Linked DNA regions of Homo sapiens. The protein of the gene in region 1 interacts with the protein of each later gene in a pairwise test. Each region holds a gene or a part of one and is shown in the gene's direction. Other genes may lie near its edges. The genes, in order: FXN, CORO2A, DAPP1 and SAMD3.

Evidence for each region.
Region 2: the proteins of FXN (region 1) and CORO2A interact in binary tests that used the Homo sapiens proteins (3 or more experiments, as listed by UniProt).
Region 3: the proteins of FXN (region 1) and DAPP1 interact in binary tests that used the Homo sapiens proteins (3 or more experiments, as listed by UniProt).
Region 4: the proteins of FXN (region 1) and SAMD3 interact in binary tests that used the Homo sapiens proteins (3 or more experiments, as listed by UniProt).

What each region holds. Positions count from the first base shown.
Region 1 is NC_000009.12:69,031,658-69,038,757, forward strand, and holds the start of FXN (frataxin, mitochondrial isoform 1 preproprotein), read left to right. Parts: upstream 1-4,094; 5' UTR 4,095-4,125; coding exon 4,126-4,290; intron 4,291-7,100.
Region 2 is NC_000009.12:98,133,633-98,140,662, reverse strand, and holds part of CORO2A (coronin-2A), read left to right. Parts: intron 1-2,974; coding exon 2,975-3,091; intron 3,092-5,707; coding exon 5,708-5,857; intron 5,858-7,030.
Region 3 is NC_000004.12:99,861,814-99,868,843, forward strand, and holds part of DAPP1 (dual adapter for phosphotyrosine and 3-phosphotyrosine and 3-phosphoinositide), read left to right. Parts: intron 1-1,196; coding exon 1,197-1,259; intron 1,260-1,956; coding exon 1,957-2,042; intron 2,043-3,912; exon of another isoform or gene 3,913-3,982; coding exon of another isoform or gene 3,983-4,023; intron 4,024-4,220; coding exon 4,221-4,308; intron 4,309-4,743; coding exon of another isoform or gene 4,744-4,761; exon of another isoform or gene 4,762-4,805; intron 4,806-6,303; coding exon 6,304-6,372; 3' UTR 6,373-7,030. UniProt on the Homo sapiens protein: May act as a B-cell-associated adapter that regulates B-cell antigen receptor (BCR)-signaling downstream of PI3K.
Region 4 is NC_000006.12:130,143,806-130,149,972, reverse strand, and holds the end of SAMD3 (sterile alpha motif domain-containing protein 3), read left to right. Parts: intron 1-3,791; coding exon 3,792-3,963; intron 3,964-4,550; coding exon 4,551-4,633; intron 4,634-5,168; coding exon 5,169-5,453; 3' UTR 5,454-5,658; downstream 5,659-6,167.

The sequences.
Region 1 (7,100 bases):
TGGGAGGCTGGGGGCTGGAATTTATCTGAAGAATGACTCATTTACATGTCTACTGGTTGACCCTGGCTGTTGGCTGAGGGGGCCTCAGCTCTCTCTACATTGTTTCTCTACTTTGGCTAGTTTGGATTTCCTCAAAACATGATGGCTGGTCCTCAGTGTCAGCATCCCAAAAAGAGAATGCCGGACACAGTGGCTCACACCTGTAACCTCAGCAATTTGGGAGGCTGAGGTGGGAGGTTGCTTGAGTTCAGGAGTTCAAGACCAGCCTGGGCAACATAGTGAGACTCTGTCTCTACCAAAAATTTTTAAAATTTTAAAAATCAGCCAGGTGTGGTTATGCACACCTATAGTCCCAGTTACTTAGGAGGCTGAGGCAGGAGGATCACTTGATTCCAGGAGGTCAAGGCTGCTGTGAGCTATGACCACACCACTGCATTTCAGCCTGGGTAACAGAATGAGACTCTGTTTCAAACAAACAAAAACCCAAAAAAAAAAAAAAGAGAGAGAGAGGGAGTTAGAAGGAAGATGCATCATTTTTATGACCTGGACTTGGAAGTCACCAAGCAGCACTTCTGCAGTACCCTGTTGGTTGGAATAGTTGTAGCCCAAACCCGAATTCGAAGGGAGGAGAATAGATAACATCCCTGGGTGACAGGAATGTCAAAGTCCCAAACAGCATATGACATGTGACAAATATTGGTGTGGCCTTCTTTGGAAGATCCAATCTTCCATACCAGGCAAAGGGATGGAAGACTAAGGAACAACATGAGGGATAGCCAGAGAGGGAAAAAGCATCACTTGTTCTAGGAACTACAAATAGCTTGAAGAAGCAAAGATGTCTAGATGCCTCCCAATATGCAGAGTGGGGTGTACAGAAGAGAGTGGTAAGGGCGCTGGGAGAGCTAAGGTGGGCAAGAGAGCTTCCTCTGTCATGCTAAGAAAGTTGGAATTTATCTTGATGGTGGTGAAAGCAGAGGGCTATGGTTAGATTCACATTTGAGATTTAGATTTTTAGATTTAAAATGATCACCCTGGTGACACTGGCTTAACTCACAATTTTGCCCAAGGCCTATGCTACCACAGTGCTTCTGAAACTTTAAAGCACATTAGAATCACCTGGAGGTCTTGTTAAACCATGGATTGCTGGGCCTTGAAACCCCAGAGATTCTGATTCAGTAGATCGAGAATAGGGCCTGAGAATTTGTATTTCTAACAAGTTTCCAGGTGATGCTGAGGCTGCTGGCCCAGCGACCACATTTGATAATCATAGCCCTCTGATAAATCCTATCAAAATATCCTAATGGCAGAGCAAGGGAATTCTGGTGATATCCTCCCCTACCCATAACCTGACAGCTATTAGGATCTGCCTACTTGAGGCTAAAAGCAACCAAGAGAGGAACAGCTACAGTGTACCACAGAGTCCCTCAACATCTTTGCCCACGCCACGGTGCCCCAGCTTCTTACCAAGTGTGCCTGATTCCTCTTGACTACCTCCAAGGAAGTGGAGAAAGACAAGTTCTTGCGAAGCCTTCGTCTTCTCTGATATGCTATTCTATGTCTATTTCTTTGGCCAAAAAGATGGGGCAATGATATCAACTTTGCAGGGAGCTGGAGCATTTGCTAGTGACCTTTCTATGCCAGAACTTGCTAAGCATGCTAGCTAATAATGATGTAGCACAGGGTGCGGTGGCTCACGCCTGTAATCTCAGCACTTTGGGCGGCCGAGGCGGGCGGATCACCTGAGGTCAGGAGTTCGAGACCAGCCTGGCCAACATGATGAAACCCCATCTCTACTAAAAATACAAAAATTAGCCAGGCGTGGTGGTGGGCACCTGCAATCCCAGCTACTCTGGAGGCTGAGACAGAATCTCTTGAACCCAGGAGGTGGAGATTGCAGTGAGCAGAGATGGCACCACTGCATTCCAGCCTGGGCAACAAAGCAAGACTCTGTCTCAAATAATAATAATAATAATAACTAATGATGCAGCTTTCTCTCTCTGAGTATATAATGCAGTTCTGATGATGTGAGGAAGGGCCTCACTGTTGGTGTGGCAGAGTCTGAGACCATGGCTGGCAATGAAAACACTACCCTTTGATGCCTATGGGCTCTCCCTTTATGGTTTCAAGGAGGGCTTCTCAATCTTGGCAGAATTTTGGACTGGATAGTTCTTTGTTGCACAGGTGGGGGGCTGTCCTGCACATCACAGGATGTTTCATCCCTGGCCTCTACCTACTAGATGCCAGTAGAACATACCCACCCCACAGCTGCCTGTTGTGACAATCAAAAGCATCTCCAGATACTTTGCAGGGGGAAAATGATTTCTCCAGGCCTGGCATATACATAACAGTATTTAAGCAGCTGCCTAGAATTAATTAAACACAGAAGGATGTCTCTCATCCAGAATGCCCTGGACCACCTCTTTGATAGGCAATCAGATCCCACCTCCTCCACCCTATTTTTGAAGGCCCTGTGCCAACACCACTTCTTCCATGAATACTTCCTTGATTCCCCCATCCCTAGCTCTATATAAATCTCCCACTCAACACTCACACCTGTTAGTTTACATTCCTCTTGACACTTGTCATTTAGCATCCTAAGTATGTAAACATGTCTCTCTTCACGATTCACAAAGTGGCTTTGGAAGAACTTTAGTACCTTCCCATCTTCTCTGCCATGGAAAGTGTACACAACTGACATTTTCTTTTTTTTTAAGACAGTATCTTGCTATGATGGCCGGGCTGGAATGCTGTGGCTATTCACAGGCACAATCATAGCTCACTGCAGCCTTGAGCTCCCAGGCTCAAGTGATCCTCCCGCCTCAGCCTCCTGAGTAGCTGAGATCACAGGCATGCACTACCACACTCGGCTCACATTTGACATCCTCTAAAGCATATATAAAATGTGAAGAAAACTTTCACAATTTGCATCCCTTTGTAATATGTAACAGAAATAAAATTCTCTTTTAAAATCTATCAACAATAGGCAAGGCACGGTGGCTCACGCCTGTCGTCTCAGCACTTTGTGAGGCCCAGGCGGGCAGATCGTTTGAGCCTAGAAGTTCAAGACCACCCTGGGCAACATAGCGAAACCCCCTTTCTACAAAAAATACAAAAACTAGCTGGGTGTGGTGGTGCACACCTGTAGTCCCAGCTACTTGGAAGGCTGAAATGGGAAGACTGCTTGAGCCCGGGAGGGAGAAGTTGCAGTAAGCCAGGACCACACCACTGCACTCCAGCCTGGGCAACAGAGTGAGACTCTGTCTCAAACAAACAAATAAATGAGGCGGGTGGATCACGAGGTCAGTAGATCGAGACCATCCTGGCTAACACGGTGAAACCCGTCTCTACTAAAAAAAAAAAAAAATACAAAAAATTAGCCAGGCATGGTGGCGGGCGCCTGTAGTCCCAGTTACTCGGGAGGCTGAGGCAGGAGAATGGCGTGAAACCGGGAGGCAGAGCTTGCAGTGAGCCGAGATCGCACCACTGCCCTCCAGCCTGGGCGACAGAGCGAGACTCCGTCTCAATCAATCAATCAATCAATAAAATCTATTAACAATATTTATTGTGCACTTAACAGGAACATGCCCTGTCCAAAAAAAACTTTACAGGGCTTAACTCATTTTATCCTTACCACAATCCTATGAAGTAGGAACTTTTATAAAACGCATTTTATAAACAAGGCACAGAGAGGTTAATTAACTTGCCCTCTGGTCACACAGCTAGGAAGTGGGCAGAGTACAGATTTACACAAGGCATCCGTCTCCTGGCCCCACATACCCAACTGCTGTAAACCCATACCGGCGGCCAAGCAGCCTCAATTTGTGCATGCACCCACTTCCCAGCAAGACAGCAGCTCCCAAGTTCCTCCTGTTTAGAATTTTAGAAGCGGCGGGCCACCAGGCTGCAGTCTCCCTTGGGTCAGGGGTCCTGGTTGCACTCCGTGCTTTGCACAAAGCAGGCTCTCCATTTTTGTTAAATGCACGAATAGTGCTAAGCTGGGAAGTTCTTCCTGAGGTCTAACCTCTAGCTGCTCCCCCACAGAAGAGTGCCTGCGGCCAGTGGCCACCAGGGGTCGCCGCAGCACCCAGCGCTGGAGGGCGGAGCGGGCGGCAGACCCGGAGCAGCATGTGGACTCTCGGGCGCCGCGCAGTAGCCGGCCTCCTGGCGTCACCCAGCCCAGCCCAGGCCCAGACCCTCACCCGGGTCCCGCGGCCGGCAGAGTTGGCCCCACTCTGCGGCCGCCGTGGCCTGCGCACCGACATCGATGCGACCTGCACGCCCCGCCGCGCAGTAAGTATCCGCGCCGGGAACAGCCGCGGGCCGCACGCCGCGGGCCGCACGCCGCACGCCTGCGCAGGGAGGCGCCGCGCACGCCGGGGTCGCTCCGGGTACGCGCGCTGGACTAGCTCACCCCGCTCCTTCTCAGGGCGGCCCGGCGGAAGCGGCCTTGCAACTCCCTTCTCTGGTTCTCCCGGTTGCATTTACACTGGCTTCTGCTTTCCGAAGGAAAAGGGGACATTTTGTCCTGCGGTGCGACTGCGGGTCAAGGCACGGGCGAAGGCAGGGCAGGCTGGTGGAGGGGACCGGTTCCGAGGGGTGTGCGGCTGTCTCCATGCTTGTCACTTCTCTGCGATAACTTGTTTCAGTAATATTAATAGATGGTATCTGCTAGTATATACATACACATAATGTGTGTGTCTGTGTGTATCTGTATATAGCGTGTGTGTTGTGTGTGTGTGTTTGCGCGCACGGGCGCGCGCACACCTAATATTTTCAAGGCTGGATTTTTTTGAACGAAATGCTTTCCTGGAACGAGGTGAAACTTTCAGAGCTGCAGAATAGCTAGAGCAGCAGGGGCCCTGGCTTTTGGAAACTGACCCGACCTTTATTCCAGATTCTGCCCCACTCCGCAGAGCTGTGTGACCTTGGGGGATTCCCCTAACCTCTCTGAGACGTGGCTTTGTTTTCTGTAGGGAGAAGATAAAGGTGACGCCCATTTTGCGGACCTGGTGTGAGGATTAAATGGGAATAACATAGATAAAGTCTTCAGAACTTCAAATTAGTTCCCCTTTCTTCCTTTGGGGGGTACAAAGAAATATCTGACCCAGTTACGCCACGGCTTGAAAGGAGGAAACCCAAAGAATGGCTGTGGGGATGAGGAAGATTCCTCAAGGGGAGGACATGGTATTTAATGAGGGTCTTGAAGATGCCAAGGAAGTGGTAGAGGGTGTTTCACGAGGAGGGAACCGTCTGGGCAAAGGCCAGGAAGGCGGAAGGGGATCCCTTCAGAGTGGCTGGTACGCCGCATGTATTAGGGGAGATGAAAGAGGCAGGCCACGTCCAAGCCATATTTGTGTTGCTCTCCGGAGTTTGTACTTTAGGCTTGAACTTCCCACACGTGTTATTTGGCCCACATTGTGTTTGAAGAAACTTTGGGATTGGTTGCCAGTGCTTAAAAGTTAGGACTTAGAAAATGGATTTCCTGGCAGGACGCGGTGGCTCATGCCCATAATCTCAGCACTTTGGGAGGCCTAGGAAGGTGGATCACCTGAGGTCCGGAGTTCAAGACTAACCTGGCCAACATGGTGAAACCCAGTATCTACTAAAAAATACAAAAAAAAAAAAAAAAGAAGAAGAAGAAGAAGAAAATAAAGAAAAGTTAGCCGGGCGTGGTGTCGCGCGCCTGTAATCCCAGCTACTCCAGAGGCTGCGGCAGGAGAATCGCTTGAGCCCGGGAGGCAGAGGTTGCATTAAGCCAAGATCGCCCAATGCACTCCGGCCTGGGCGACAGAGCAAGACTCCGTCTCAAAAAATAATAATAATAAATAAAAATAAAAAATAAAATGGATTTCCCAGCATCTCTGGAAAAATAGGCAAGTGTGGCCATGATGGTCCTTAGATCTCCTCTAGGAAAGCAGACATTTATTACTTGGCTTCTGTGCACTATCTGAGCTGCCACGTATTGGGCTTCCACCCCTGCCTGTGTGGACAGCATGGGTTGTCAGCAGAGTTGTGTTTTGTTTTGTTTTTTTGAGACAGAGTTTCCCTCTTGTTGCCCAGGCTGGAGTGCAGTGGCTCAGTCTCAGCTCACTGCAACCTCTGCCTCCTGGGTTCAAGTGATTCTCCTGCCTCAGCCTCCCGAGTAGCTGGGATTATCGGCTAATTTTGTATTTTTAGTAGAGACAGATTTCTCCATGTTGGTCAGGCTGGTCTCGAACTCCCAACCTCAGGTGATCCGCCCACCTCGCCCTCCCAAAGTGCTGGAATTACAGGCGTGAGCCACCGCGTCTGGCCATCAGCAGAGTTTTTAATTTAGGAGAATGACAAGAGGTGGTACAGTTTTTTAGATGGTACCTGGTGGCTGTTAAGGGCTATTGACTGACAAACACACCCAACTTGGCGCTGCCGCCCAGGAGGTGGACACTGGGTTTCTGGATAGATGGTTAGCAACCTCTGTCACCAGCTGGGCCTCTTTTTTTCTATACTGAATTAATCACATTTGTTTAACCTGTCTGTTCCATAGTTCCCTTGCACATCTTGGGTATTTGAGGAGTTGGGTGGGTGGCAGTGGCAACTGGGGCCACCATCCTGTTTAATTATTTTAAAGCCCTGACTGTCCTGGATTGACCCTAAGCTCCCCCTGGTCTCCAAAATTCATCAGAAACTGAGTTCACTTGAAGGCCTCTTCCCCACCCTTTTCTCCACCCCTTGCATCTACTTCTAAAGCAGCTGTTCAACAGAAACAGAATGGGAGCCACACACATAATTCTACATTTTCTAGTTAAAAAGAAAAAAAAATCATTTTCAACAATATATTTATTCAACCTAGTACATACAAAATATTATCATTCCAACATGTAATCAGTATTTTAAAAATCAGTAATGAGACCAGGCACGGTGGCTCACGACTGTAATCCCAGGACTTTGGGAGGCCGAGGCGAGTGGATCATCTGAGATCAGGAGTTCAAGACCAGCCTGGCCAACATGGTGAAACCCCATCTCTACTAAAAACTAGCTCAGCATGGTGGTGGGTGCCTGTAGTCCCAGCTACTCGGGAGGCTGAGGCATGAGAATCACTTGAGCCCAGGAGGCAGAGGTTG
Region 2 (7,030 bases), about 29 Mb from region 1:
GACCAGCCTGGGCAACATAGCAAGACCCCATCTCTACAAATAATTTTAAAAATTAGCTGAGCTTGGTGACACATGCCTGTAGTTCTTAGCCTGGAACTTGGGAGGGTGAGGTGGGAAGATTGTCTTACCCCGAGTTCGAGGCTACAGTGAATCATGATTGCACCACTGCACTCCAGCCTGGACAACAGAGTGAGACCCTGTCTCTTAAAAAAAAAAAAAACAAGTACAGTGGTCTCTACACAGATGGGGAGGTGATGGAAGAAGAGAAGGTTGGGTGTTCCCTGAGTCCACCCTGTTCTTGAAAGTCCCTCTAGAAAAAATCCCAAGACTATTGATTCTGCAAAGTCAAGGACTATGTTGAGTGTTCACCTTGCAATCAGCCCCTCCAACAGCACCTGTCCCCTGGGCACCTCGGGAATATTTGTGGGATGGATGGATGTTGGCCAGTTTTCTTCTCAGCTGTCTCTTTCACTTAGATATAAAAATGGCTGGGGGAGCATTCTGGTGGGTGGCTCAAGAACCTGGAACTAGATGGTGGATGTGGGAGGTCGAGGGCCTGGGTCCTGGTCCCTGTTCTGCCAGGGCCATGCAATGTGATGTGCAAAATGAGCAGATTGGTCACTGCCAGTCCAAGGTTCTGTGACTGAACTGGTGTGGTTTCTCTATGACCCCAAGAAATCCAAGTCTCTTGGTGGAGTTGGAAATAGCTTCAGGGCTGTGTGGCATGGGCTGGGGGACCTGTATGTCCCTCCCAGCACCTATACAGGAATTCTCATTAGGAAAGGGGAAAATGAGGGAAATGCCCTTTCTATGTAATTGAGGTAGAATTCACATACCAGAAAATTCACCGTGTTTTGTTTTTTGTTTGAGACAGGGTCCCATTCTGTTGCCCAGGCTGGAGTGCAGTGGCACAATCATAGCTGACTGCAGCCTCGACCTCCCAGGCTCAAGCAATCCTCCCACCTCAGCCTCCCAAGTAGCTGGAACTACAGGTGTGCGACACCATGCCTGGCTATTTATTTATTTATTTATTTTTGAGACGGAGTCTCACTCTATTGCCCAGGCTGGAACGCAGTGGCACAATCTCAGCTCACCGCAACCTCCACCTCCTGGGTTCGAGTGATTCTCCTGCCTCAGTCTCCCAAGTAGCTTGGATTACAGGCATGTGCCACCACGCCCGGCTAATTTTGTATTTTTAGTAGAGGTGGGGTTTCACCATATTGACCAGGCTGGTCTCAAACTCCTGACATCAGGTGATCCACCCATCTTGGCCTCCCAAAGTGCTGGGATTACAGCCGTGAGCCACCATGCCAGGCCTAATTTTTTGATTTTTTGTAGAGACGGGGTTTTGTCCTGTTGCCATGTTGGAAAATTCACCGTTTTAAGGTGTATAGTTCAGTGGATCTTAGTATATTCACAAGGTTGTGAATATACTGTGAATAAACTGTCACCACCACCTAATTTCAAAATCATTTTGTCACTCCAAAAAGACACCCCTCACTCATTAGCAGTCACCCCCTATTGCCCCTTCTCCCAAGCCTGAGGCAACCAGAATCTTGCCTTCTGTCTCCATGAATGTATCGTTCTGCATTTTTCTTTCTTTTTTTTTTTTTTTTTGAGACAGAATCTTGCTCTGTCGCCAGGCTGTAGTGCAGTGGCATGATCTTGGCTCACTGCAACCTCTGCCTCCTGGGTTCAAGCGATTCTACTGCCTCAGCCTCCCGAGTAGCTGGGACTACAGGCGTGCACCACCACGCCGGGCTAATTTTTTGTATTTTAGTAGAGACAGGGTTTCACCATGTTGGCCAGGATGGTCTCGATCTCCTGACCTCGTGATCCACCCGCCTCGGCCCCCCAAAGTGCTGGGATTACAGTCGTGAGCCACCGCGCCCAGCCCGTTCTGCATTTTTCATATGCATTACTTAGGGTTCCAGATACCAGGTACCAGGGGGATGCATTAATGTGCTCAGGCAATGAAACCACATCTGGAACATCATCTAAGTGGAATCACACAACGTGTGGCCTTTTGTGCCTGGCCTCTTCTTCTAGTGTTTTCTAGGTTAATCCATGCTGTAGCAGGGACCAGTACTTCATTCCTCTTTTTAGGGACAGTAGTATTCTGCTGCATGAATATACTGCATTTTGTATGTCCATTCTTCACTTGATGGGCATTTGGGTTGTTTCCACTTTCTGATATTATGAAGAATATTGTTGTGAACATTGGTGAACCAGTTTCTTTTTTTTTTTTTTTGAGACATAGTTTCACTCTTGTCACCCAGGCTGGAGTGCAATGGCGCAATCAGAGCTCACTGCAACCTCCACCTCCCAGGTTCAAGTGTTCTACCTCAGCCTCCTGAGTAGCTGGGATTACAGGTGCATGCTACCACGCCCGGCTAATTTTTGTATTTTTAGTAGAGACAGGGTTTCACCATGTTGGCCAGGCTGGTCTCGAACTCCTGACCTCAGGTGATCCACCCACCTTGGCCTCCCAAAGTGCTGGGATTAGGTGAAACAGTTTCTTGCGGACTTATCTTTTCATTTTCCATGGAGATAGACCTAGGAGTGGAATTGCTGGGTCATGTGGGAACCGGTTAACCTTTTGAGGAACTGCCAGACTATTTTCCAAAAGAGCTGCACCATTTTACATGCCTACCAGCAGTGTGTGAGGGGAAATGCCCTTTTATTGAACATCTGCCATGTGCTAGGCACTGTGCCATACCTCCTCTCCCATGATCCTCACACCAACCTGTGAAATACCTGTGATTGCTCCCTTTTACTGAGGAGGACACCAGAGCTCAGAGAAGTGAAGTAACTCCCCCAGGATCCCACAGGGAATAAGAAGTAAGGCCTAGATTCACACCCAGCTCTGTCCCTTATGTTTTCCTGTTGACTGGTTGCTAACTGACTATGTGACTGTCCAGATGCTAATGTGGAATCCACCTCCTCCCCAACCCTCCTGGGCACTGTCTTGCAGACAGGGAAGTTGGACCCCCACTACCCAAAAGTCTGCGGGCACAGAGGCAACGTTTTGGATGTCAAGTGGAACCCTTTTGATGATTTTGAGATCGCCTCCTGTTCTGAAGATGCCACAGTGAGTGTCAGCCCCTGAGGGGCTTCCCCTTCCTGAAGAGTGGGATTGGGGTGGTTGGGGTGGAATGGTACCTGTTCTTGGCTCTGGTGCCCCTGACTCCATCGCGGAGGTGAGGTCACTGTGTGGGGAGGTGTTAAGTTAAGGTAGAGGAGGAGACATTCTTGGTGCTGTAGGACTAGCGGCACCACCCCTCCTCTCTATGGGCCTTAGTTCCCCCCCATATAAAATGGGCATAATAGTTCCACCCAGCTAATAAAGCCCAGTGAAAATGTATATTCCGATGGGAAAACCCATCCTTCGGGGAGCTATAAAAGGCTATGAGGGGCATTTTTATGGTGATCAGAAAAGATGTTCCACTTAATCCCATAGTGAGGAAGCGAGCTATAAAAGGCTGTGAGGGCCTTGGATGAATGTGGACACTAAAACCATTCCAGCAGCTTCAGTCTCACTCACTTTTTTGAGCCCGTGTTCTGTACCAGGGTTATCATCCCTGCCCCAACAATGTTCAGTGTTACTTATTTACAATTCATTTTGTACCCACTTCTAAAATATGGTGGTATGGCTTAAGACAAGAACCACAGATATGCCAGGTTCAGTGGCTCACACCTGTAATCTCAGCACTTTGGGAGACTGAGGTGGGAGAATCACTTGAGGCCAGGAGTTGGAGACCAACCTAGGCAACATAGTGAGACCCTGTCTCTATTAAAAAATTAAAAAACACAGATATGATCAGATGATTAAAATAAAGATAAAAGTCATTGTCACCATTTATTGTGAGCCCACTGTATTCCTAACTGTCATCACACTTATCATTTCACAGTCTCCCCAGCAACCCCACAAGGTAGGATATTTTTCTGATGGAGAAGCTGAGGATCAGAGAGGTACAGCAATTTGCCTAATGTTACACAGCCTGTGGGAGGCAGAGCAAGACTTCAGACTGAGGCCTGTCTGATTCCACAGCCCATTCTCTTTCCAATGTGCTGTGACACATCTTTAAAGAGAAGCAGCCACAGATGGAGAAACTGAGGAAATACTAGAAATGATGGCTAAGAAGGGTTGCAGCAGCTAAGCTGCTAGTTTAGCTAAGAGCTACCTGGCAGCCAAGGCAAAATGGGCAACAGAATGTATTGCAAAACCTTCAGTTAGATCAAAAGAAGCAGACCAGTTCATCAGGAAAGGAAGGCAGAAAATTCAAAGAGGATTTGTGTCGGTTTCCATATAGCAGATGCTGAGGAACGTAAAGGACAGTGTCTGCCGAGGTGATTTCACCAAAGGGACAATCAGGTCCTGTGAGAATTGGCCCTGTCCCCAGGGAGTATAGGGCCTCTGGCAGGATATCAAATATCTGAAACTGTCCCCACTTTTGTGATACCTGCCTTTTCAGGACTGCTTTGAAGGCTCCCATCAAGATCTTTATAAATCTCTTGCTAGCCTCATTGCCTGCCACTGCCCCTTCCCCGATGCCCCAGGGCAGGACGTGACTGTTGGGGGACTGAAGAAGGAAGGGGCTTTCCTCCCCGAAGCTATGCCCACAGTGAATTTATGGGGTGTTCCTCCCTGCCTTCAGGGCCTGGAGGGCACGGTTGCTCCTCTAGCAGTGGGGAGTCTTCTCTGCTTCAGTGTTGCGGGTGGTACCTTCATCTTCCAAACATACCTCTTCAGAGTGTGTCTTCCTCCCGGGGTTCTATGCAGTGACAGCCCTCATCAGACCGAAGTATCTGGAGCCTGTCACTACTCTCGTGGGGTTGGCTTCCTGGTTTTAAATCCAAGATGACCAGGAAATAAATATTTGCTGAATTGAAAGCAAAGTCGTCTACCTGAAAAACCTGTATACCTCTAAGGGAAACAGTGCATACAATCAACTAGGGGCCAGAGAACCTTGCAGGACCAATAAGGAAGATCAAGTCAGCAGCATCCCAGGATCACCTTGTACTCCATTTGTATACCTCTGTGACAGGGAGCTTACTCTCTGCCATGGCAGCCCCCTCCATCTTCAGACAACACTACTCTGGAAGGAAGTCCCAGCACCTCTTCTCAGGCCCTCACCATGAAATACAGGCCCATGACCCCATCCAGCCCAGCCTCCTGACCTTCAGAGTTTCCTCTTGCAGGCCATCCAGGGTGCACCTCCAAAGCAAGAAGTTTGTCCCTGCCCTGCTGCAGAGACCTCGCCGGCTCCCTAGTGCCTGAGGATGCAGCCTAAACCCTTCATCCTGGCATTTGAGGCTCTACCCTGGGTCTTTGGGACAAGAAGAACACTGTACTTTGGGGATATCCTAGCTTAGGAGACAGGCCTGAAACCCAGCCACCTGCCCACCACCTCAGGCCAGCAGGATGACAAAGATCTCTCAAGGGCAGATTTGGAGGCCTAGACTCATCCCTGGTCAGCGCTGGCCCCTGCTCAGGCTGGAGGAGCTTGGGGAAGCCCCTGTCTGTCTGAGGACCCTCAGCTGCCCCTCCACTGCCCCTCAATGCCCATAGCCACTGAGTGGGAGGTGGCTATGGAGAGAGCTCCCTTGGTCCTTCTGCTGGTCACTGCCAGATCTGTGGCTTAGGCTGGTGACGGTGCCAAGGTGCCCTGGCTAATGCTGCCTTGGGCCCTGTCTCCCCTGCCAGATTAAGATCTGGAGCATCCCCAAGCAGCTGCTGACCAGGAACCTCACGGCCTACAGGAAGGAACTCGTGGGCCACGCGCGCAGAGTAGGCCTGGTGGAGTGGCACCCCACGGCCGCCAACATCCTCTTCAGTGCTGGCTATGACTACAAGGTGAGTCTGGGTATTCTTTCTCTGGGGCAGCCCCAACAAGTTCCCACAAACTGGAATACAATGGAAATGTATTCTGTCACAGTTCTGGAGACCAGAAATCGAAAATCAAGGTGTTGGGAGAGCCAGCTCCCTCCAGATGCCCTAGGGAAGAATCCTTCCATGCCTCTCCCAGCTTCTGGTGGCTCCAGGCATCCTTGGCTATAGCTGCGTCACTCCAGGCTCTGTTTCTGTCTTCACACGGCCTTCTCTCTGTGTACCTGTCTTCCTTATAGGAAGAGGAGAGCAACTATCATTGGATTTAGGGCCCACCTAATCCATTATGATCTCATCTTAACTAATTTCAGCAGCGAAGACCCCATTTCCAAATAAGGTCACATTCTGAGGTTCCAGGTGGACATGAGTTTTGGGGGGAACCCTGTTCAACTCATTATAGCCTGCCCGGAGTGGATGGGATGGCACTGCCCAGAAAATCGTTCCCCCGACCCTGCTCCACTGACAATCAAGCATGCAGGCAGTAGGCCCTGTAGATTGGGACCCACAGTACAGGAGACCTCAATTCTATTCCGACTCAGTCTCTGACCTGCACTATAGCCTGGGAAAGTGCCTTGACTTCTCTAGGCCTCAGTTTCCCAATCTGTACACAAATGGAATTGGTGGCACCATAGCTATGGCCTTTCAGTTCTTTCCTTTTGACACTATAGGGGTTTACAGAGACACCTCGGGACCCTCTGTGTTGGATAAAAGGGAGGTGGGGGGCCGGACATGGTGGCTCACACCTGTAATCCCAACAGTTTGAGAGGCTGAGGTGGGAGGATCACTTGAGCCCAAGGATTTGAGACCAGCCAACATAGTGAGACCCCATCTCTACAAAAAAATAGAAAAAATTAGCCAGGTGTGGGAAAATGCGTCAAGTAGTCCCAGCTACTCAGGAGGCTGAGGTGGGAGGATCACTTGAGCCCAGGAGGTTGATGCTACAGTGAGCCATGATCATGCCACTGTACTGCAGCCTGGGCAATCCTGTCTCAAAAATAAATAACTAAAATTGTTGTGGGGAGCACTGAGGGAACCTGGGCCCTCGCTCTTCCGATCCACAGCGCTTTCTCATCTGTTTGTATGGGGTGTCTGCAGAGCTGCTGCGTGTATTTGTGCTGGTTGTTCTATACCCAACTTCAG
Region 3 (7,030 bases), on another chromosome or scaffold:
ACTGTTCTTTGACAAAGCCCTGCATAGGTGTAGCCTGCAGTTAAAAGTCAATAAAACATAGTCCTCATAATGGAATGATTGAGGATGAAGATAGCAAGTTTACTCTAGAACATCTTTCGTTCTTCTTCTAAAACAAGGAAGAAGTCAAAATTGTATAAAATGTTTCTTTAAGGATAGGCCAAAAACATCACTGATGCTACTGAAACTATGTTATAAAATCCAAAGAAAAACACAATTTAAGCTCTTACAAGTTCAGAGTATCCAAATGTTCCCCATTTATGAGACTGTATCTTTAGAATTCCTTTGTTTCATCTCAATGTGCCAAGAAGACCTTCATGGAATGTGTCTGCTCCTTCTCGTTTTAAGAGTCACGGTATTTAACCTCTCACAGACACTGACATGCTTGGAATTAGCCTAAATAATTTCATTATTTGTGTCCCTTCTAGATCGAATGCTCCCTGAGGACAGAGAGTATTCATATTCATAGCATATTTATGTTTAAATCCTCTGTTACTTCTTTTAACTGGGCACATTGACACCCAGGATAGAGTAGGATGCTGTTTGTATATAAGAAGGTAACAGCGGGCAATGATGGTTTTTACCACTGATACCTTGGAGTTCTTAGGCAAGGTTTAGAATATCATGTGAGTCAGGGTTCCTAAACCTCAGTTTTGTTGTTTGTAAGACAAGAATAATAATACTGGCATTGTTGTGTGAGGATTGGATATAATATATAAAGCCTCCAATGATAGTATATCGTCCATATTAGGTACTCAAAGAACAATATTTATCTTTATTATAGAGTTAATAAAATGGAAATTGTAGTGGTTTGTTATAAGTCACATTGAATATTTATGATAGACTAATTCTTTTTGTATTTAAAAATATACTAATGATATATCTGCCTTCATTATGAGCTTAATGCATGAAATTAATTTTTATAGATATTTTGAAACTTTTTTCTCAGAAATGACACAAAAGAATTTTTTGAGCTTAATGCATGAAATTATTTTAATTTTTATAGATATTTTGAAACTTTTTTCTCAGAAATGACACAAAAGAATTTTTTCAGGGTTATAGTATTTAATTTTTTAGATACTTTTAAAATGAAAGTAAATCATCTGGTTCAAATATTACATTCCTGTATTCAAAACTTTGTGTGTCTGTGTGTTTGTGTGTGTGTGTGTTTTTCTCAGACCTGGAAAACAAGATGGTTTACTCTGCACAGGAATGAACTGAAATACTTCAAAGACCAGATGGTGAGAAACATGATAATATATTTTTCCTTTAAAAATCAATTCTCTAGATGAAAGAAACTTAGGTCTTTAAAATCTCTGAAATTATTTTTATATCCACCTGAAATACCTAATAAATGATTGGAGATATGAATTCTTGATTCCTGAAATGAGCAGAGTTATTTTGCAAAGATGAGATGTATGTCCCAGAAATTGCTTTCTTGGATTGGCTAAACCATAGTTCCCCAGGGCACGTAATTCCCTCTGTTTAGGACAATGTAATTATTCTCTTGCCACAATTTATTAACTGTCTCTTTGCAGCAATTTGTCCCTTTATTAAAAATACAGTTTCTCCATTTCCCATGCCCATTTCATTAAGCCAATTTAAAATTATTTTTTCTCACTTTTCTTATATAACATTTCTAAGAAAGTAGAAGTTTTAAAAAATGAGAGAAAAATATACCTCTCTTCCATGTGTTAAAATCCATCTTCATCAGTAAGTTGATAAAGGTAGTAACTTAATGCCCAGTTTTATGAAAGGCTCATTCCAAAACCAAGGACTTCCCTTGGTAGGGCTTTTCTATTGTCAGTCCTGTTAGTGAAAGGAAATATGACAATTGCACATAGTGGAAAACTTGTGAGGGGAATAAGTGAGGGACAGATTTGTCTGTTTTTTTTTTTTTTTTTAATGGTGACATACGTTGCTTTTTATTTTATTTAGTCACCAGAACCAATTCGGATCCTAGACCTAACAGAATGTTCAGCTGTACAATTCGATTATTCACAAGAAAGGGTAAACTGTTTTTGGTAAGTTGTTTTATAAAGAAAACGTTTTTTAATGTCTTCTTGCCAGACACTTATTTTGGCTAAGGAATAGAAAGCTGTATATCTTAATGTCTACAAAGATCAGATATGAGGGGCATGCCTGCATGTAAGGAGTGTTTTCAGCTGAGTGTGACATAACACCTCATTTAAAGTAGCTTAAACAAACAGGCAGGTCAGCTCAGCTTATGTTGCGTACTGGAGAAGTATGACTCACATAGAGGATGCCATTCACATCTTAGACAATTTAATTTCTTTGAGGCTTTCTCCCTCATTTTATTTATAACTTTGTTGACTCTAATGATAGGTGATTTGTATTGTTATGACAATTTCTGGCAAATGGCACAAAAATATTTTGTTCTAACATAATCAGTATGTTATAAAAATGTTCTAACTGGGAGAAGAGTCTTGAGAAAGGAATGTCTTATTTCCCACTACCTTTTATTTTAAAGTTTTTCAAGCATACACAAGTTGAAAGACATACGTTTACATACCCTCCATAGCAGTTATTAATATATCTTACCATATTTGCTTTATCCTAGTCTATCCACTTTTTTTTTTTCCTGAACCAATTGAAAGTAAGTTGCAGACATCATGGCACTTTATTCCTAAAGACTTTAGTATGTGTCTCTTAAGAATAAAATATCACATATAGGACTACAGTATCATTATTACAACTGAAGAAATTAATGTTAATTCTATAATATCAACTGAGAATGGGTGTCTTTTTAAAATTTGCATAGACATGCCCTGTGAGCTAGCAGAGCTTTATTTTTCTCATATATCCAAAAATCAGGAGGCAAGCAGCTATGGTGACAAGGTCAGGTCCAGGGTCTCTACTGTTCTCCTGGCCTTTTCTCATGCTGGCTACTTCAGGATTTGAGTGTCTACTACACCTGTAGGTCTCATATTTTCAACAAAGTACAAAGAAAGATGTAGGGATGATATTACCCGTGTCTGTCCCTTTTTATCAGGAAAACCAATGTTTCTCCAGAAACTCCCCTATGAGACCGGGTGCCATGGCCATCCCCAGCAGCTGATCATAATTGGCTTAAACAAATTAGGATTTATTGCTTGGGGTTCTGTTAGCAAAAGAAAGGGATAATTATCTGTATTAATAGACAGTTAATAATGTCTCCCATAGGGAGTACCAAACAATGACAATGACAGAAACCAGTTTTCGAGTATATGCACTGTATCACTCCCTCCCCACCACTGTCCACTCACTCTCCACTAGACCTCACATCCAGGTATTAGCTTCTATGCACAGAGACTTACCTCTTACCTATTCAACTTTAATTGCTGGTATCAACAAAATACACTGCTTAGGCTTTAAGATATAGAAACCCTTCTGAAGGCTTTTTCACAAAAAGAAAAAAGATTTTTGGTATTTTTGCATCTCAACTGTAAGTAAGGAAGTATGTTCAGTATGTAATTTAGGGCTGACCTTATTGCTTACATAATTTTAACTAGGTAATCAGACACAGTCAAATGAAAAATTACTATACATTTAGGAAAAGTATTTTGTGCCAGTAGGAAAGTTCTTATTCCCTGCAGCAGAGACTGACTCTTGGCCAGAGATGGGAGAAATAACTAATTTAGTTTTATTGTCTCTTTTTATTGTCCCAATAGTTGAAATTGCCCACAACCACAGAAGGCAGAGTTATCCTCGTTGAAGCAAGCTAACACAAATGAGTTCTTTTTAGCAAACTTCTCTGTCTTGCCTATTCTTTGGATCATAGCACAAGTTTTTGAGAGATCAGCTGAATGAATACATAAGTGTTAGAGTTAACCTAAGACATGAACCACAAAAGGATCTAGGGGTGTCCTGAACATGTTTCTTTCTTCTTCAAAGTCTTATTCGAGTATATACATCTGACTTGGAATAATAATATGAATCTACAACTTCCTTAACATTTCTGCAGTTTGCTGGCAGGAGTAGGTGCATATATACCAGCACTTCAAGGTACTTACCTGCATCCTTTATCAATTCTTTTTTCCCTTGCAATACTCTAATTAGTGTTCAACTAATATATATATATATATATATATATAATATATATAATATATTATATTATATATTATATTATATATATTATATATATATATATATATATAGCTAATGATCTGCAATATCTTATGTTCTTTCTTTTGTCCTATTAGTTTGGTATTTCCATTCAGGACATTTTATCTCTGTGCAAAGACCGGAGTAGAAGCTGATGAGTGGATCAAGATATTACGCTGGAAATTGGTGAGAATTTTTAAGCCTTCAGATGTCAAGTCTTGAGAAATAACATGTTGATGATTTCAAACATATTTCTATCAAAAGAGTCAGACTAGACCCAAGAATCAAAGAGATGTCTGGGTGTCTACTTCCAGGCTTGCGGAACAGTCTGTTAATTCTTCTGGGACATGAGAAGAGATGGAGACAGGATTGTAAAAAAGAAAGAATTAAGCCATATTTGGGTCTTAGACATAGAGCCTTAGCCTAATAACCACCTATCAGACTTCCTATAAGGTGTGTCAGTTAGTTCAGTTTTGTCTGGAGGGGGACATTTAGAACCAGAAGGTCTGACAGAGGAAAGCTGACATACTTCTCTAGTTGAAAAGCCTTTTAAATTGTTAGAGAAGAAAGTTTGCCAGAGGCACTTAGCTTAGTTTCCAATGTAAGCATCACTTTGTGCAGGTCAAGGACAAAAGCTGATTTATTTTGTCTGCTCTCTGTATATCTCCCGAGGAGAAGACTGAGTGAGTACTTATAAAACTTCACCAATCTTCTACTTGTTTTTCATGTGCTTGCAAGTTAGTGAGTTCTTAGCCAAGAACTTGTCCTTAAAGCTGACTAAAATTTCCTATAAATACCATCTTAAAAACTTTGATGATTTCTTTTTTTCTATTTTTTTTTTTTTTTTTTTTTGAGACAGAGTCTCGTTCTGTTGCCCAGGCTGGAGTGCAGTGGTGTGATCTTGGCTCAGTGCAACTTCTGCCTCTTGAGTTCAAGTGACTTTCATGTCTCAGCCTCCCGAATAGCTGGGATTATAGGAGCTTGCCACCACGCCTGGTTAATTTTTGTATTTTTAGTAGAGAAGGGGTTTCACCATTTTGGCCAGGGTGGTCTCGAACTTCTCACCTCAAGTGATCCACCAGCCTCAGCCTCCCAAAGTGCTGGGATGACAGGTGTGAAGCACCATGCCCGGCCAGATGATTTCAAACAAAATATTTTTCTTAATTATTTTTTGCAAAATTGTCTGATATATATGAAAATTCCTTTCTAGATACTGAGACTTTTGCTTTCAGTTATGTTTTCAGTTTGAAATTCAAATAAGTATACCATTCATTTTTAAATTCTTCCAATGTATCAGTGAGGGATAATTTGTCTTGTGAAACCTTTGCTCAGATATGGATTAATTTCTTATTCTTTCTATTTTTAATTATCAAAGTAACACAAAATCATTATACAAGAATTATAGAAAAATATATCAAGTATACACACTTTTAGACTTCTCTCTTTACACATAAATATTTAAAAACAAAATTTAATCACTTGCTAGAAGTAAAAACCACAATGATGTACCACTACACACCCTTCAGAACGGATACAATGAAGACTGTCAATATCAAGTATTAGCATGAATGCGAAGGAACTAGAACTCTCCTACATTGCTAGAGGGAATGAAAATGTGTACGGCTACTTTGAAAAATTGCTTGGCAGTTTCTTTTAAAACTATACATATACCTACACTATAATTCAGCATTTTCATGCTTAGGTATATCTAAGAGAAATGAGTGCATGTATCCACTAAAAAATGTTACAATAATGTTCATAGCATCTTTATTGATAATATACAAACTCCAAACAAAACAAATCACTTGCCAGTGTTCTATATTTGCTCACTTCACTTAGCAATATATTATGAACATTTTTCCATATTATCAATTTTAGATCTATATCTTCCTTTTAACTCATTGAATAGTATTGCATTTTATAGATTACTGTAAGTATTAGACCAATTCCCAATTTGTACATGTTTTAGCAATCACTTTACAATATGTGTCCTAAAAAAAAATACAGAAAATTTTTCTGGACACATGATAATTAGCTTATAGTTGGGGGTGAGCACATGATAATTAACTTAGAGTTGTATGACATCCTTACTAATCAACATGTCTTATTTAATATTTGTTAGAAGCCAGGGTTCATTACAATCACTCAATAATGGATACACGTGTGTGTACTTTATTACAGTCACAAATAAGAAAACAGCTCAACCAAGGGGAAGGCACGATCCGATCTCGGTCGTTCATCTTTAAATAGATCTTTCTTGCCAAGGAATGCTCTGGCCCAGGAGCAAGGTGGAATGTTTCCCTGACGCTGTGATCTGCAGCAGGCTTCAAATGAAAACCGACTAAGGATTTTCTTTCAAAAACAAATCAGAAGCAGATGCTGATTGGGACCCATATACCACGTTGCTGACTCACGTTGCTGCCCTTCCATGATGTTGCCATCTCCTTGAGAACACTGAAGCAATCACCATTCTGATAGAAAGTGCTTAAACCACCACTCTTAGGTCTGCTCACTCTTAGAACACACAATGGAAGAGGAAGGGTTTTTGTTTTCACTCATTGTGGTCCCCAAGCCTATTGACACTAGTTGCCTAGAGTCCCACTGTGAGTCATGGTCAGCCTGTCTGACATCCAGGTTGTGCTATTAACCAAGAAGGAAACAGATACTTGGAGGCTTAGATGACTTCTGCAGGATTTATATTCAGATAGAAAACATCAAATATTTTCAGGGGAGAGGTTTTTTTTTTTAATTTTTCCCCCTTTATACAAAAAAAAAAGAACATTTCCAAAACTAAAATAGAAAATGCTTGTGGCATTTATTTTCTCTTTTTAAAAGGTTCAGAAATTTGGCAGGTCCTTTGCTTCTAATGACAAAACTGTGAGAGCTAGATGTCCTATGGGCAATTAGG
Region 4 (6,167 bases), on another chromosome or scaffold:
AGAAATTATCCAGTCTGAGTAACAGAAAGAAAAAGGATTAAGATGATTAATTTGTAGGACATAATCTGGGGTTGTGAAAAGGGGGGCTTTCTTTTTGTTCCAACTTTTAGGTTCAGCAGGGGATACGTCGTGCAGGTTTGTTATATAAGTAGATTGCATGTCGTGGGGGTTTGGTGTACAGGTTATTTCATCACCCAGGTAGCGGGCATAATACCCGATAGGTAGTTTTTCGATCCTCACCTTCCACCCACCCTCTAATCTCAAGTGGACTCCGGGGTCTATTGTTCCCTTCTTTGTGTCCATGTGTACTCAGTGGTTAGCTCCCACTTATAAGAAAGAACATGCAGTATCTGGTTTTCTAGTCCTGCATTAATTTGCTTAGAACAATGGCCTCCAGCTACACCTATGTTGCTGCAAAGGACATGATTTCATTCTTTTTTATGGCTATGTAGTATTCCATGGTGTACATGTACATTTTCTTTATCCAGTCTGCTATTGATGGGCATCTAGGTGGATTCCATGTTATTGCTATTGTGAATAGTGCTGCAATGAATATATGTGTGCATGCGTCTTTCTTTATATTCCTTTGGGTATATACCCAGTAATGGGATTGTTGGGTCAAATGGTAGCTCTGTTTTAAGTTCTTTGAGAAATCTCCAAACGGCTTTCCACAGTGGCTGAACTAATTTACATTCCCACTAGCAGTGTATAAGTGTTGGAGGCTTTCCTGTGGCTGACCATTCACAGCTGGGAGCTTGGCTACACAGATGTTAGTGCTCATAAGTAAATACACTGAGATATAATGGGAGCCAGGAATCTCACTGTTGAAGAGAGTTAGAAGCTTGGGAAGGGGAAGGTTAGGAAAAGCCCTGTGGTATTGGTTTGGAATTGAAAGTATCAATGTGAATTCATGGTTTTAGTCTTTATGTATGGCTATTTAATATTTACATATATAGTTATTGGTGTTTCTGGATCAACGGGTGCCTTTGTTTATGTAAATTCAAACATTTCCTAGATTTCTTCTATGAGAAAGTCTAAAGCAATAACATCTCCGTAGCAAGTTGCACACCAGGGCTGAAATCTTGGTTTTTTTTGGTTGGGTTTTTTTTGAGAAAGTCTCTCTGTTGTCCAGGCTGGAGTGTCATGATCATGGCTCACTGCAGCCTTGGCCTCCCAGGGCTCAGGTGATCCTTCTACCTCAGCCTCCTGAGTATCTGGGACTACAGGCATGTGCCACCATACCTGGCAAATTTTTGTATTTTTTGTAGAGACAGATTTCGCCATGTTGCTCAGGCTGGTCTCAAACTCCTGGGCTCAAATGATCCTTCTGCCCTGGCCTCCCAAAGTGCTAGGATTATAGGCATGAGCCACAGTGCCTGGCCTGAAATCTTAGTTTTTAAAGCCATTCTTCATGAAAAGGAATTAGGGTTCGTGGAGAAATAGCTCACTACAGGGTTGGGGGCAAAACAAAAATGAAAACAACAACAACAAACCAAGACGAGTCAAGACGAGTCTGAAATACTGTGTAATGCCAGAAATGAAGGAAGTGCTTGCACACTAATAAGGACATGCCAAGAGGGCACGGCAGTCTGTTTGAAGCGACTCCTACTGGCCAAGTCTGGGCAATTCGAGCAATTCTATAAATAATGAAAGGATCAGATTTGTAACCGTTTGGGTAAAATGGGAATTGATTAACCTGTAGTGATAGAAATAAGTAAGTAAATATATGTGGAAGAAAAGAAACTATCTTAAAATAGAAAGCCAACTAATCCATGTAGAAAGAAAGGAATTAGAAAAGTCACCATTTGGCAACTATTGTAGTAGTACTTGATTCAGGCAAGAATCATTAATGGATGTGGAATCTGATGGATCAAAGTTATACAAGGAACAAGATATTGACATAAACTCAAGGTATCTCCTCATAAAATACAACATATATTAATTTTACGTGGAAAAACCTGGTGAATTCCATTTCTAATCAAGTAATAAAAATTATCTCCAATACTGGGACCAGTTACCATTTTGTGCTTCCGGACACAGTGAGAAATGCTAATATTCTTGCCAGAAATGCATAAATCTTGAAATATCATAAAACTTCCAAGGAGAAATGTTCTACAAAGTAACTGGCCTCCACTTTTCAGAAACCGTCAAGGAAACTAACAAGTTGTTTCAGACTGGAGACTAGAGAGGCGTGGTATCTAAATCTCATATGGGATCCTGGATTAGATCCTGGGCCTGTTAAGAATATGACTGGAACAACTGGCAAATTTGAATGGAATGTGTAGTAGATTTTCCTGAATTTGGGTGCTCTTGTACTTAGGAAATACACAATGAGGTATTAAGGAATAGTGGGGCATTGTATCTACAGCTCATTTTCAACTGGATCAGAAATTGGGGGAAGCTGCACAGAGGGCACTTGTAAGTTCTGTTTACTATTTCTGCAACTTTAATGCAAACTTGAAATTATTTCAAAACATAAAAAGTCAGAAAAGAAATTCTTAGGCTATGAGCCCAGAACAGTGGCGTATTCACCTCCTTCATCCTTCCCTTCACATCTTCCTGCTGAGAAAACGGTTTTCTAACGGTATTAATCTAGATTAGTGGTCCACTGTGGGTTGCCTGGTAACAAAGCCACTATGCCTTATGCATTCCAGCTTTCTGACAACTTAACTTTCAGACCTAATCTCTAGGCAATTTATGATCTACCAAAACATTCAAGGAACAATGAGGCCCAGTGGGTAGTATGTGATTGTTCTTTATAGTTTTAGGAAAAGCAATGACTAAATTAATTCACTGGAGTGTGGGTGGCTAATAATCTGATAATGCCACTGTCAAAAACAGGAGGGGGAGTGGTGGTGGAATCCTCTGAGGGGGAAGAGTTCAGGCAGTGGTAGGATGGGGTAGTTTGAGGAAAGGGACTTCCATAAAGTAAACTGGTTTTGCTTTGAACTTGTAGTCAAATCTGCACATACATTGTTTCTTTTTCTTTCTTTTCTTTTGAGACAGGGTCTCACTACGTTGCCCAGGCTGGAGTGCAGTGGCACAGTCTCGGTTCACTGCAGTCTCGATCTCCCCGGGCTAAGGCAATCTTCCCACCTCAGCCTCCTGAGTAGCTGAGACTATACACGTATGTTGCCATGCCCAGCTAATTTTTGTGTTTTGTAGAGACAGGGTTTTTCTGTGTTGCCCAGGCTGGTCTCAAACTCCTGGGCTCAAGTGATCCTCCTGCCCTGGCCTCCCAAAATGCTGGGATTATAATCATGAGCCACCGTGCCCAGCCATATATCGTTTTTCACTGTTTACCTCTGTCTACTCTTAGTTTCTAAAGCACTCTCCTTTACCTAAATTTAGGATACTATGGTTAAGTATTTGTCAGGGCTTGCTTCCTAAAATCTAACAGTTTTGTTCTTTGCTGCTTGTTGAACAAGACATAACAATGTAGTCACCTAAAGAAATGTAAGATCTTAGAACCTTAGCTGGGTAACCCAAATAGCCTGCATATGCATACACCCTTTGAATCCTCATTTAGTTGAGTCTGCATCCAAAGTTTTAGTTCTGTAGGTTTAGAAATTTGCCATGCCCATTATTTATCATTTCAAATTCATTTCAGGCTTTCATTCTTTTCTCCTCCCTCATCCTAAGGCTTTAATTCTCCACTAAAACTTCTAAAATATTGAGTACTTAGTGTAAACCAGCATTCAAAGCTTAATTCTAAAGGTTTTATGTCTTTACATTCTATATATTAGCTTTTCTTGTGATCTGATGTATCCATTGCTTTCTTCTTTTGTCAGATGTTCAGAGAATTCCAACTTCTTACAAGAACAGATATTTATAAGAAAACAAGGCACATTTTGGAATCCTATTCAGAAAATATACTGACTTCTTTTTCAGTGGTGGACAATCCAATCAATATTGTATTGCAAGAAAAAATGAAACATTACACAGATGAAGACATGTTGAAATGTTAGTAAACCTTATGGAGTGGTGTGATTTCATCTGTTATTTATCAGAATATCTAGAAAAGTTATGCTTTGGTAGTCAGTAAAATTCAGTAGTTTACATTTATTGAGTTTTAAAAATATATTTAAAAATTAAAAATTTACATTACTAAAATATATTTAATAATAATTTTCAATATTTAAGTAATAAGTGAAACAACTGGTGGGGAAAAAAAAGAATTTTTCCAATTAGAGGAGGAGGAGAGGTATAGATTTTAAAAGTATACTGGATATTGTAAAATTATATTTAGGGAACTAGTAACCAGTTAATTTTACAATACAAATCACAAGGGGCAGCATAAATTCTTCCTGGCTGATGGACAGACAGTACAGAACTCTTGTCTTCTGGAAGTGCTCTGGAGGGCAGATACGAGATTTTGAATGTTTTATTAGAAGAGGGTATGGTTTAAAAAGGTGTGAAACATTGATCTAAGAAGGCTAGTTTGTTTTCTGTCCAAGGTAACAAAAAATCCAGATGTTTCAATACTAGCTTAGCTTACAATTGCTAAAAGCTTATTTTTACTTCACATGTTAACATATTTGCTTTGACAGACATGAAGATGACAGCCACATGTTTACTCCTCCCAGATGTTTTTGGGGATGATCCCAGCCTTTTTGTCATCATGAATGAACAGGTATGTAGTATGTGAATGGCCACTAGTTTGACATTTTACATCTTCATGCGATTATTTATATTATTTATTTACTTATATTTTTGAGATGGAGTCTCACTCTTTTGCCCAGGCTGGAGTACAATGGCGTGATCTTGGCTCACTGCAGCCTCCACCTCCTGGTTCAAGCGATTCTCGTGCCTCAGCCTCCCAAGTAGCTGGGATTATAGGCATGCACCACCACGCCCAGCTAATTTTTGTATTTTAGTAGAGACGGGGTTTCACGGTGTTGGTCAGGCTGGTCTGGAACTCCTGACCTCAGGTGATCCACCTGCCTTGGCCTCCCAAAGTGCTGGGATTACAGGCATGAGCTACTGAGCCCAACCGCGATAACTTATTTAAAAGCAAAGTTGGTGGTCTATTTTGAAGTATGTTTGTCATATTTACAAATATGCTACATTGCAACAAGCTGATTTATTGTAATACCATGATTAAGTTCAGATGTTTTATTATTTAGCTATTTTACGTATCATGGTAATGACTCCACTCTTTTTTTCAGGTGCAAGTGTCCACACCTGTGTTGGAAGTTAAAAACCCTTTCAACATGGAGGTCTGCGAATTTTCTTTATATTTAGAAAGGGAGAGGCTCACAAAGGTGGACGACTGTGTTACAGCCTTGGCTGCGCTAGTAGCTGCCTTTCATGTATTTAGGATTGAGTGTCCAAGAAGACTGTCCCAAACTTTCAACTTCCTAGAAACGCTGATTTTCGATATGCACAGTCCTTATTTTCCTTCTTTGAAAGAAAAGGAAAACGAAGTAGGATTTCAGCACCCACTCACTTAATAGCATGCCAAATATTGTACTGGAATTTACCTCTGGGAAAACTGAAGCTTCATAAGAAATTGTTTTGATTTAGGGTTGTGGTAGAGGTAGGTATGAGAAAATCATCTTGTATTTATAGATGCTAATGAATTTCAATGCTTTCTATCTTTACACTTAGATATTAAGTTCTTTGTGAAATTCTGTAATAAAATTCTACTTCATTAAAGAGCTGTCGATTTATTTTGAGTTTTTAGAAATTCCGCAGTTAAGTTATATTTTCAGAGGTGCCTCAGTTTTTTTGAAATACACTGTACTCAAATCCTTCAGGTTAGAGAATGGCCTTGGACTGAATTCAGCATGCCCACTTAATGCACAGGAGCTGCACATTTATGGCCTGTGGGCTGTCTCTTTGGTCTGAACATCACTTGGGAACATTTTGAACTTGCATTGAACATTTCAAGAAGGGACACATACTCTTCTCTCCCTCAGGGGATCTGCCTTGCCCCAGGAGATCTGGTTGTCTTTAATCGCTTGTTGAGAATAAGGGCTGCGGCATTTTTGAGGTCTCCTCATTGCTGGCTGATCTTGCTGGTACAGGTCCTGATGTCTGTGACCTGTGTTCATCTGCTACTGCTTCTCGCCTTGGAAACACAGTGACTCATCCTGCATGCCCAACTGGCTACTGCCCAGAGTCCAGTTCTATCTGTTCTGCTCTTAACAATGGCTGCATAAGTA